Homo sapiens: one gene and its partner. The protein of the gene in region 1 interacts with the protein of each later gene in a pairwise test. Each region holds a gene or a part of one and is shown on either strand. Other genes may lie near its edges.

What was found. The genes of interacting proteins can lie anywhere in the genome.
Region 2: the proteins of NCKIPSD (region 1) and PSMD9 interact in binary tests that used the Homo sapiens proteins (3 or more experiments, as listed by UniProt).

The regions. Positions count from the first base shown.
Region 1 is NC_000003.12:48,673,298-48,675,916, forward strand, and holds the end of NCKIPSD (NCK-interacting protein with SH3 domain), read right to left. Parts: intron 1,451-2,619; coding exon 1,247-1,450; 3' UTR 547-1,246; downstream 1-546. UniProt on the Homo sapiens protein: Has an important role in stress fiber formation induced by active diaphanous protein homolog 1 (DRF1). Induces microspike formation, in vivo. In vitro, stimulates N-WASP-induced ARP2/3 complex activation in the absence of CDC42.
Region 2 is NC_000012.12:121,891,790-121,898,836, reverse strand, and holds part of PSMD9 (26S proteasome non-ATPase regulatory subunit 9), read right to left. Parts: intron 4,099-7,047; coding exon 3,996-4,098; intron 1-3,995. UniProt on the Homo sapiens protein: Acts as a chaperone during the assembly of the 26S proteasome, specifically of the base subcomplex of the PA700/19S regulatory complex (RC).

The DNA of each region.
Region 1 (2,619 bases):
ATGGGTCACGCCTATAATCCCCGTACTTTGGGAGGCCAAGGCAGGAGGATCACCGGAACTGAGGTGTTTGAGACCTGCTTGAGCAACATAGTAGGACCCTGTCTCTACCAAAAAAAAAAAAAAAAATTAAATTAGCTGGGCATGGTGGCTACTGTAGTTTCAGCTACTCAGGAGGCTGAGGCAGGAGGATCACTTGAGCCTGGGAGGTCAAGGCTACAGTGAGCCTGGGTAACAGAGTGAGACTGTCTCAAAAAAAAAAAAAAGGAGAAAAAGAAAGATGTAAGTGTGTAAGTGAAGCCTGGAGATGCAGACACCTGCGAATGGGCTGCTGAGGGGCACTTGGCTATGGCTGGGGCTCAGGAAAAGTGGAGCTCAGGGAAGAGAGGCTAGAACAGGGCTCAAAGGGCCTTGAAGGCCAGGCCTGTCAGGGTCCATCACCTCCTCAGGCTGGAGAAGTCAGTGCAAGCTGCAGTGATGGGGTCCTGAGGCCCCAGTACTTCTGCCCATCCTCTCCCACTGTCTCCCAAGATCATACAGGGAAGCCTGTTTCCAGATGCCTGTGATTTATTTCCAAAGGAGAGCTACAGCACATAGGAAAATACACATGGCTTTTCAGTCTACATTTTTACAGAGAAAAGAGATTCGGTCATTGGCTTTCTCAGTGCCATCATCCTGTTCCATGAGGCTCCAGGATGGATGGCCTGTCTCCAAGATCCCGCTTTCAAAGCAGCAGCTTGGCCAAGGCCTCTGGGGGTAGGAGTGAAGGGCAGCGACCCCCATGTGCGGGTGGAGGGGAGGACATGAGCAGCACTCACTGCAAAGCTAAGGCAAAGAATAGAGCTGGTGGGAGATGCCTCCCCTCACCCCAGGGGCATGGCTTGCTGAGGCCCAGGATACAGACCAGGAGGGGTGGGGATGGGGGTCTGGTCCAGCCTGGAGCGGCAGCAGGACTCTGAGTGTACACATGGGTGTGGGGTGAAGAGGGGGGCATGCTGAAGAGGAAGCCTACCAGGGTATAGAGGGGCTTTAGCTTGCATATTCCCCCTGCCCCAGAACAGCTCCCAGACCATGGTCCCCAATCCTACACTTGGCCCCTCTCTTAAGTTCTACTTCAGGTGGGGGTCCTGCTCAGGTTCCTTCTGCCACCTTATCCCCTCCCACTGTCAGTGCAAAACATTCTTAGGGCCAAGCCCCTGAGTCCCCTGCACACTGACTGGAGCTGCAGGGAAGGGAGGACAGCAAGGTGCTAGCTGGGAGCCTCCCCCAGCACCAGGAATTCCTTGCACATCTCTCGGACAATCATGCGGTCCATCTGGCACTGGGGTGAGGTCTCCTCCTCATTCAGGATGCGTCGCAGTATGGCCTGCAGGTCGGGTAGCCGGTGGCGGTGCTGCAGGTAGGGTGTGGTGCGGACTATAGCATGCATCAGGGAGAGGTACTCCATGCGCAGCTGTGGGAAGAGCAGGCCAGCTCAGGGACCCCAGGGAGGTACTGCAACCACCACTGGACAGGGACAGGACCCCACTGTCCCACAGACCCCAGGGCTGTGGACCTGAACATCAGGGCTGCATCCCCAGCACCCACAATATACCTGGCACAGAATTGGTCTTCAATAGTTTTTGAGTAAGCGAATAAACGAATCATCCCAGCCACAGACAGCCCCAAGTATGTGGCCTGCCCAGGGAAGTCCTGCCCATCCTTTGAAGCTGGGTCTCTCAAGGTGCCTCTGTCTATCAGTCAGAGGCCCTCTGCTTCTCACCCTATCCTCTCTTACCCTGGAAGACCTCGTGCACATTCACAGCTTCAAATAGTGAACCACTCTCATACCTCTTACCTAGAACTCCCCTGTGAGCTCCAGACAAGAATATTCAACTGCCCACTTGACATCTCCTGCACATGTGACAGACCTCAAATCCACATATCTACCACCAAACTCATGATCTTTCCCATCCTCCCAGAGTTGAAGGTTTTCTCATGTTCTTACCTTTAGAAAGAGCACTGTTGCCGATTCAAAAGCACAGGCCTGAAATATGGTGTCCTCTTTGCTTCTTGTCTCCCACATACCTCATATCCAAGCCATGTCTAAGACCTGGCCATCCTACCTCCTACATATGCCCCAAATTCATCTCCAACAGCCTCTCCTCCAACCTATACTCCCAACACCTCTGGCTGAACCAGTTCCAACAGCCCTTATGATCTATATATATATATCATATATATATATATATATGATATATATATATATATATCATTTTTTTTTTTGAGACAGGGTCTCGTGCTGTCACCCAGGCTGGAGTGCAGTGGCATGATCTTGGCTCACTGCAACCTCTGACTCCTGGATTCAAGTGATTCTCCTGCCTCAGCCTCCCAAATAGCTGGGATTACAGGCATGTGCCAAAATGCCTGGCTAATTTTTGTATTTTTTTTAAGAAGAGACGGGGTTTCGCCATGTTGGCCAGGCTGGTTTCAAACTCCAGACTTCAAGTGATCCACCCACCTCGGCCTCCCAAAGTGCTGGGATTACAGGCGTGAACCACCACGCCCGGCCAGCCCTTATGACTTGACAGCTTGTTCTCACAGAGACCCCCAGTCCACTGACCTGATGTCTGCTTCCCTCAA
Region 2 (7,047 bases), on another chromosome or scaffold:
GGCAGGAGATTGGCGTGAACCAGGGAGGCGGAGATTGCAGTGAGCCGAGATCGCGCCACTGCACTCTAGCCTGGGCAACAGAGCAAGACTCCGTCTCAAAAACAAAACAAAACAAAACAAAAACAAAAATTAGCTGGGCGTGGTGGCGGGTGCCTGTAATCCCAGCTACTTGGGAGGCTGAAGCAGGAGAATTACTTGAACCCAGGAGGTGGAGGTTGCAGTGAGCCGAGATCGCACCACTGCCCTCCAGCCTGGCGACAAAGCAAGAATTCGTCTCAAAAAAAAAAAAAAAAAGTGCTGCATAAGCCTAGTAATCCTGGAGACATTCAGTCCAGGAGAGGGAGTCCACAGGGAGGTGGCCAAAGGGCACCCCTGCTACAGGGCTCTTGCCAATTGGCTGGGTTTGGGAGGAAGACCCAATGCTACAAAATCTTTGATTTTTCCAGAAAAGCTGAAAATTGGGATCTTTGAAGTGAAATTCTCTGATTTTTCAGTACAGATAGCTAATTCAAAATGTTGTGAACCACCATGGCAATCTGCAGGCCACGCCAGCACAGCAGCTGGTATTTTGATACCTTGTGCCTGTCAGTGGGATTGCGGTACTACCTGACCTGCCTCCTCTGCCACTGTCACTTTGGAGCAAAGGCAAGACCCTCAGTCATGAAGGGATTCAAGTTCTCAACCCACAGGAGCAGATGTGGGAAAAGAACCCAGATCTGAACAAGTGGAGACATGCACTTGGGAGGCAGACTTACATAATACATGGTCACTTTCACTAGAAAAGCCCTCCCCCAGTGAGGTCCACAGCATCCCTAGACTCTGCAATGCCTGGCACAGGGAAGTGCTCAATACACAGCTGTTGGGGAATGGAACGAACGACTATTTACAACATATTACAATTCTAATCAAAATGTTGAAAGGGTTTTTTTCAGTACAAAATGTTTCTGCAGTGTATTTCAAAAAACAAATTTGCAATTATAACAAACGTACCATATTAACATAAGCTGTTAGCTGGGCGCGGTGGCTCATGCCTGTAATCCCAGCACTTTGCGAGGCCGAGGCGGGCAGATCACCTGAGGTCAGGAGTTCGAGACCAGCCTGGCCAACATGGTGAAATCCCGTCTCTACTAAAAAAATACTACTAAAAAATTAGGCCAGGCATGGTGGCTCACGCCTGTCGAGGCCGAGGCGGGCGGATCACCTGAGGTCAGGAGTTGGAGACCAGCCTGGCCAACATGGTGAAATCCCGTCTCTACTAAAAAAATACTACTAAAAAATTAGGCCAGGCATGGTGGCTCACGCCTGTCGAGGCCGAGGCGGGCGGATCACCTGAGGTCAGGAGTTCAAGACCAGCCTGGCCAACATGGTGAAACCCTGTCTCTACTAAAATATAAAAATTAGCCGGGCACGATGGCGGATGCCTGTAATCTCAGCTACTTGGGAGGCTGAGATGGGAGAATCACTTGAACCCGGGAGATGGTGAGTGCAGTGAGTGAGCCGAGATCATGCCACTGCACTCCAGCCTAGGTGGCTAAGCAAGATTCCATCTCAAAAAAAAAAAAAAAATTAGTCCGGTGTGATGGTGGGCACCTGTAATCCCAGCTACTTGGGAAGCTAAGGCTGGAGAATCACTTGAACCTGTGTGTATACACATGTGTATATATTTGGGAGGCCTCAGCCTCCCAAAGTGCTGGGATTACAGGCATGAGCCTCTGTGCCCAGCTTATGCAGCATTTTTCCTTCTAGAGGATTTCAGAGAAAAGTGAAATCTTGGTTACACCCAGCCTGAGTCATTCACTCATATGTGTATTTTGCATATATACACGCATGTGTATATTTTACATACACATGTATGTGTGTATATATTTACATGTATGTGTAGATATATACACATGTATGTGTATATATGCTGTTAACAACACGGGAGATTACATACAGAAGCCAAAGGACCTATGCATTATTTTCCAATTTTTTTTTCTTTTCTTTTTTTTTTTTTTTTTGAGACAGAGTTTCACTCTTGTTGCCCAGGCTGGAGTGCAATGGCACAATCTCGGCTCACGGCAACCTCCGCCTCCTGGGTTCAAGTGATTCTCCTGCCTCAACCTCCTGAGTAGCTGGGATTACAGGTTCGTGCCACCATGCCCAGCTAATTTTGTATTTTTAGTAGAGACAGGGTTTCTCCATGTTGGTCAGGCTGGTCTCGAACTCCCGACCTCAGGTGATCTGCCCACCTCGGCCTCCCAGTGTGCTGGGATTACAGGCGTGAGCCACCGCACCCAGCCATTATTTTCCAATTTTTATGTAAATCTATAACTGTTCTTTAAAAAGGGCTGTTTTGAGAATAGATTTTCTTTCTTTTTTTTGAGACAGAGTTTTGTTTGCTCTGTCGCCCAGGGTGGAGTGCAGTGGTGTAATCTCGGCTCTTTGCAACCTCTGCCTCCTGGGTTCAAGTGATTCTCCTGTCTCAGCCTCCCAAGTAGCTGGAATTACAGGCATGTGCCACCACATCCAGTTAATTTTTCTATTTTTAGTACAGACAGGATTTTGCCATGTTGGTCAGGCTAGACTCAAACTCCTGACCTCAGGTGATCTGCCCGCCTTGGCTTCCCAAAGTGCTGGGATTACAGGCATGAGCCACCGCACCCGGCCGAGAACAGATTTTTCAAAAAAAGACCAATAAGGAATTGCTCAAACAGATTTTTTTTTTTTTTTTGAGACGGTCTCTTGCTCTGTCACTCGGGAGGTGGAAGTTGCAGTGAGCCAAGATCGTGCCACTGCACTCCAACCTGGGTGACAGAGCGAGACTCCGTCTCAAAAAATAAATAAATAAATAAGATGTGATGCAGATGGAATCAAGATTCAAACAGATTAAAGAGGAGTTAGTAAGTGAAAAATGTGGAGGATAAATGCTAATAGGACTCTGTGGTGGAGACGGTTGCCTACCTATGGCTGAGTGGATAATGGCCCCCAACACATCCACATCCTAGCCCCTAGAAGCTGGGAATATGCCACCTTACATGGCAAAAGAGGCTCTGCAGATGTGATTAAGGACCTTAAGATTCGGACATGATCCTGGATTATCCAGGTGGGCCTGGTGTCATCACAGAGGTCTTTATAGGTGAAAGAGGGAGGCAGGAGAGTGAGAGAAAGAGATGTTATGACAGAATCAGAGGGAGGGAAATGCGACTGCTGGCTGTGTAGATGGACGAAGCCATGAGCCAAGGACGGTGGGCAGCCTTTGGAAACCAGAAAAGACCAGGAACAGGTTCTCCCCTAGATCCTCCAGAAGGAGCCAGCCCTGCCAACACCTTGATTTTAGTCCAGTGAGACCCATCTGGACTTCTTATCTCCAGCTACTAAGTCTGTGGTCATTTGTTATGGCAGAAACAGAAACAAATATACTATCCAATCTGTACTCTCTGCTAGCTCTTTAATTAAAAACAAATCACGTCATTTGTTATGGCAGAAACAGAAAACAAATATACTATCCAATCTGTACTCTCTGCTAGCTCTTTAATTAAAAACAATCAGCACCTTGGAAGGCCAAGGCAGGAGGACCACTTGAGTCCAGGAGTTCAAGACTCACCTGGGCCACTTAGTGAGACTCGTCTCTACTAAAAAAAATTAGCCAGGCACAGCGACACATGCCTATAGTCCCAGCTACTTGGGAGGCTGAGGCAGAAGGAGCACTTGGAGCCTGGGGGGTTGAGACTGCAGTGAGTCATGTTAGCACCACTGCACTCCAGCCTGGAAGACAGAGCAAGACCCTGACTCAAAAAAAAAAGAGAGAGAGAGAGAGAGAGAAAATGAAACCAGAAATATAGAACCTTAGAGTCTAGCCCATTCCCTTGGTTCTCAGTCCTTGGATGGGGACAAGACAATCCCATCAAGGCAGAAGAGAAGGCAGTAGATAATACAGATAGTTGGTTTTATTTGTATGCCTTTAACACCTTCCCACCACAAGGTGGGGAAAGTCTTCTAAGAGGGCCACTCACATATGATGTTGTGCCTGGCGGTGCGGACTTGGTACAGGTCCACGTCTGACCGGGGGTAGCCCTCACAGTCCACCAGCGGCTCGTTCATCCCAATGCCTTTTTGCTGGAGGAAAGAAACGTGGTTAAAAGGTGCTCATGGGTGTAATGTCCCCAGGATGTCTTTCCCCAGACCCTTCTCCTCTGAAGTCATAATAAAGGTGACAGTAATGAAAACTGCCACATACTGATCACTTACACCAGGGGCTCTACTCATGCCCTCACAACTACCCTGGGGTGGGCACTGTGTTTTTCATTTTTTATTTTTAACGACGCAAGTAATGCATGAATCCATTCTTTTTTGAAGTTAAAACAGTGCCGATAAAACCAAAGACTCCTTTGAGCATCATCCCCAAGGCCAGCCTCTTCCTCCACTCCTTCACACCCTCCTTCCCACAGGTGGCTGACACCTGGCTGCTGGCCCTGGAAGCTAGAGGGGAGTGAAAAGCCCAGACAGCACCCAGCTGTGGCAGGGCTTTGATTCTTCTGAAAATAAAAAGATCTGAAGAAGGAAACTGATAGCACCAGCTGCCTCCGGGGAGAAGAACTGGGTGGCTAGGTGACAGGGCAGGGAGAGAGACAGTCCATTTTATACCCCTCTGTAGGTTTTGAATTTTGCCTATGGGAATGTATTCTTTATTCAAAACAACACTTTTTTTTTTTTTAACATGAGTCAGAGGAGAGTACACAAAAGCAGTGAAACCAGTCACATGGTTCAGGGGAGGGGCTTTGCAATTGGTTAGACTTTAATTTGAATCTCAACTCTGCCATGTACAAGCTGGGCATCCTTAGCTGAGACCTTCTCCTCTCTAAGCCTCAGCTTCCTCAATTATAAAATGGGAATAGGAGCACTCGCCTCCCTCCCTACCTGCTGCAAGAACTAACGAGCTGACCTGCAGAGTACTTAGCACATGCCACGCGCATACACAGCATAGTGGGTTGAAGAGCGGCCCCCAAAAACAGATAACCACGAGCTAACCCCCAGAACCTGTAAATATGACTTTATTTGAAAAAGAGTCTTTGTAGATGTAATTATGTTAAGGATCTCGAGATAAGCTCATCTGGTGGCTGGTGTCCTCATAAAAGAAAGGCAGAGGTAGGTGTGGGACAGACACAGGAGGAAGGCCACATGAAGATGCAGGCAGAGGTTCAAGTGACACAGCTGTAGGCCAAGGACCGCCAGCAGTCACCAGAGGCCAGGAGAAAGGCTTGGGAGCTTCTCTCTCAGAGCCTGCAGAAGGAGCCAACCCTGCTGACACCTTGATTTCAGACTTCTGGCCTCCAGAGCTGGGACAAAGTAAATTCCTGTTTTAAGTCACCAACTCTGTGGTGTTAAGGTGGCCTCAGAAAACGACTACGCGCAGAAGTCATAAATAGTGGCTGTAAGGATTAGTCAGTCCAGGGACAAGCTGCCAGTGTACACAGGCACTGAGAAGAGGGATTCCATTCATTTTGCTCCCTTTCTCTCTGGAAGCCTCCGGGTTACACCCAAACCTACTGTCCACTGCGCAGGGAGATAGTTCTCCACACTCCCCTAACACAGGACTCGCCGTGACACTGCAGAAATGCGCCAGGGGCTAAAAACCTGTATCTGCTCCTGCCTTCCCACAGTGGTTAAGGGTTGACCAGCCTTTGAGAATCAATATCACATTGGATAATGCTTCTCAAAGGATGGGATCCATAACACTAGCAGCTCACACACACGGCATTAAATAACCCTGAATCAAAAATACATATTCCTCTCCCAATTCTCTACAATCCTGCAATTGTCAAGGCAAAAGTGTCCATTTGGTGCTGGTCTCTGCAACACCCCAGTTACTTGCTATCTCTAGTACCCTCTGTTTTTATAACAGTTTTATTGAGATATAATTCAGATACCATATAACTGACCCATGTAAAGTGTAAAAGGTAATGGCTTTTGTGTTTGTATTGGTTTGAGACAAGATCTTCTGTTGCCCAGGATCGGGTGCAGTGGTGTGTTCATAGCTCACTGCCGCCTTAAACTCCTGGGTTCAAGCGATCTGTCTCAGCCTCCTAAGTAGCTGGGACCACAGGCACATGTCATCACACCTGGCTAATTTTTAATTTTTAATTTTTTTTTTTTAAAGACAGAGTCTCGCTCTGTTGCCCAGGCTAGAGTACAGTGGCGAGATCTTGGCTCACTGCAAGCTCCGCCTCCTGGGTTCAGGCCCTTCTCCTGCCTCAGCCTCCCGAGTAGCTGGGACTACAGGCGTCTGCCACCACACCCGGCTAATTTTTTTGTATTTTTAGTAGAGACGGGGTTTCACCGTGTTAACCAGGATGGTCTCGATCTCCTGACCTCGTGATCTGCCAGCCTCGGCCTCCCAAAGTGCTGGGATTACAGGCATGAGCCACCATGCCCGGCCTTTAATTTTGAATTTTTTGTAAAGATAGGCTCTTACTGTGTTGCCCAGGCTAGTCTCAAACCCCTGGCCTCAAGTGATCCTCCTGCCTCAGACTCCCAAAGTCCTGGGATTACAGGCATGAGCCACCACGCCTGGCCATTGACCATTTGTATTGACCATATTTTCTTTGGAGAAATGTTTATTCAGATCCTTTCCCTGTCTTCTAATTGGCTGTCTTTTTATTATTGAGTTGTAAGAGCTCTTATTATAGTCTAGATACTATCCTCTTATCAGAGAAATGATATGCAAATATTTTCTCCCATTCTGGAGCTTATCTTTTCATTTTACTATGCCCTTTGAAACACAGTTTTAAAGTTGAAGTCCAACTTATCATTTTTTCTTTTGTAGCTTGTGTTTTTGGTGCCATATCTAAAAAGGCTTTGCCTAATCCAAGGTCATGAAGATTTACTCCTATGCTTTATTATACGAGATTTATAGTTTTAGCTGTCCACTTCTTTTTTTTTTTTTTTTTTTTTTTGAGATGGAATCTCTGTCACCCAGGCTGGAGTGTCGTGGTGCAGTCTTGGTTCACTGCAACCTCCGCCTCCCAGGTTCAAGTGATTCTCTTGCATCAGCCTCCCGGGTAGCTG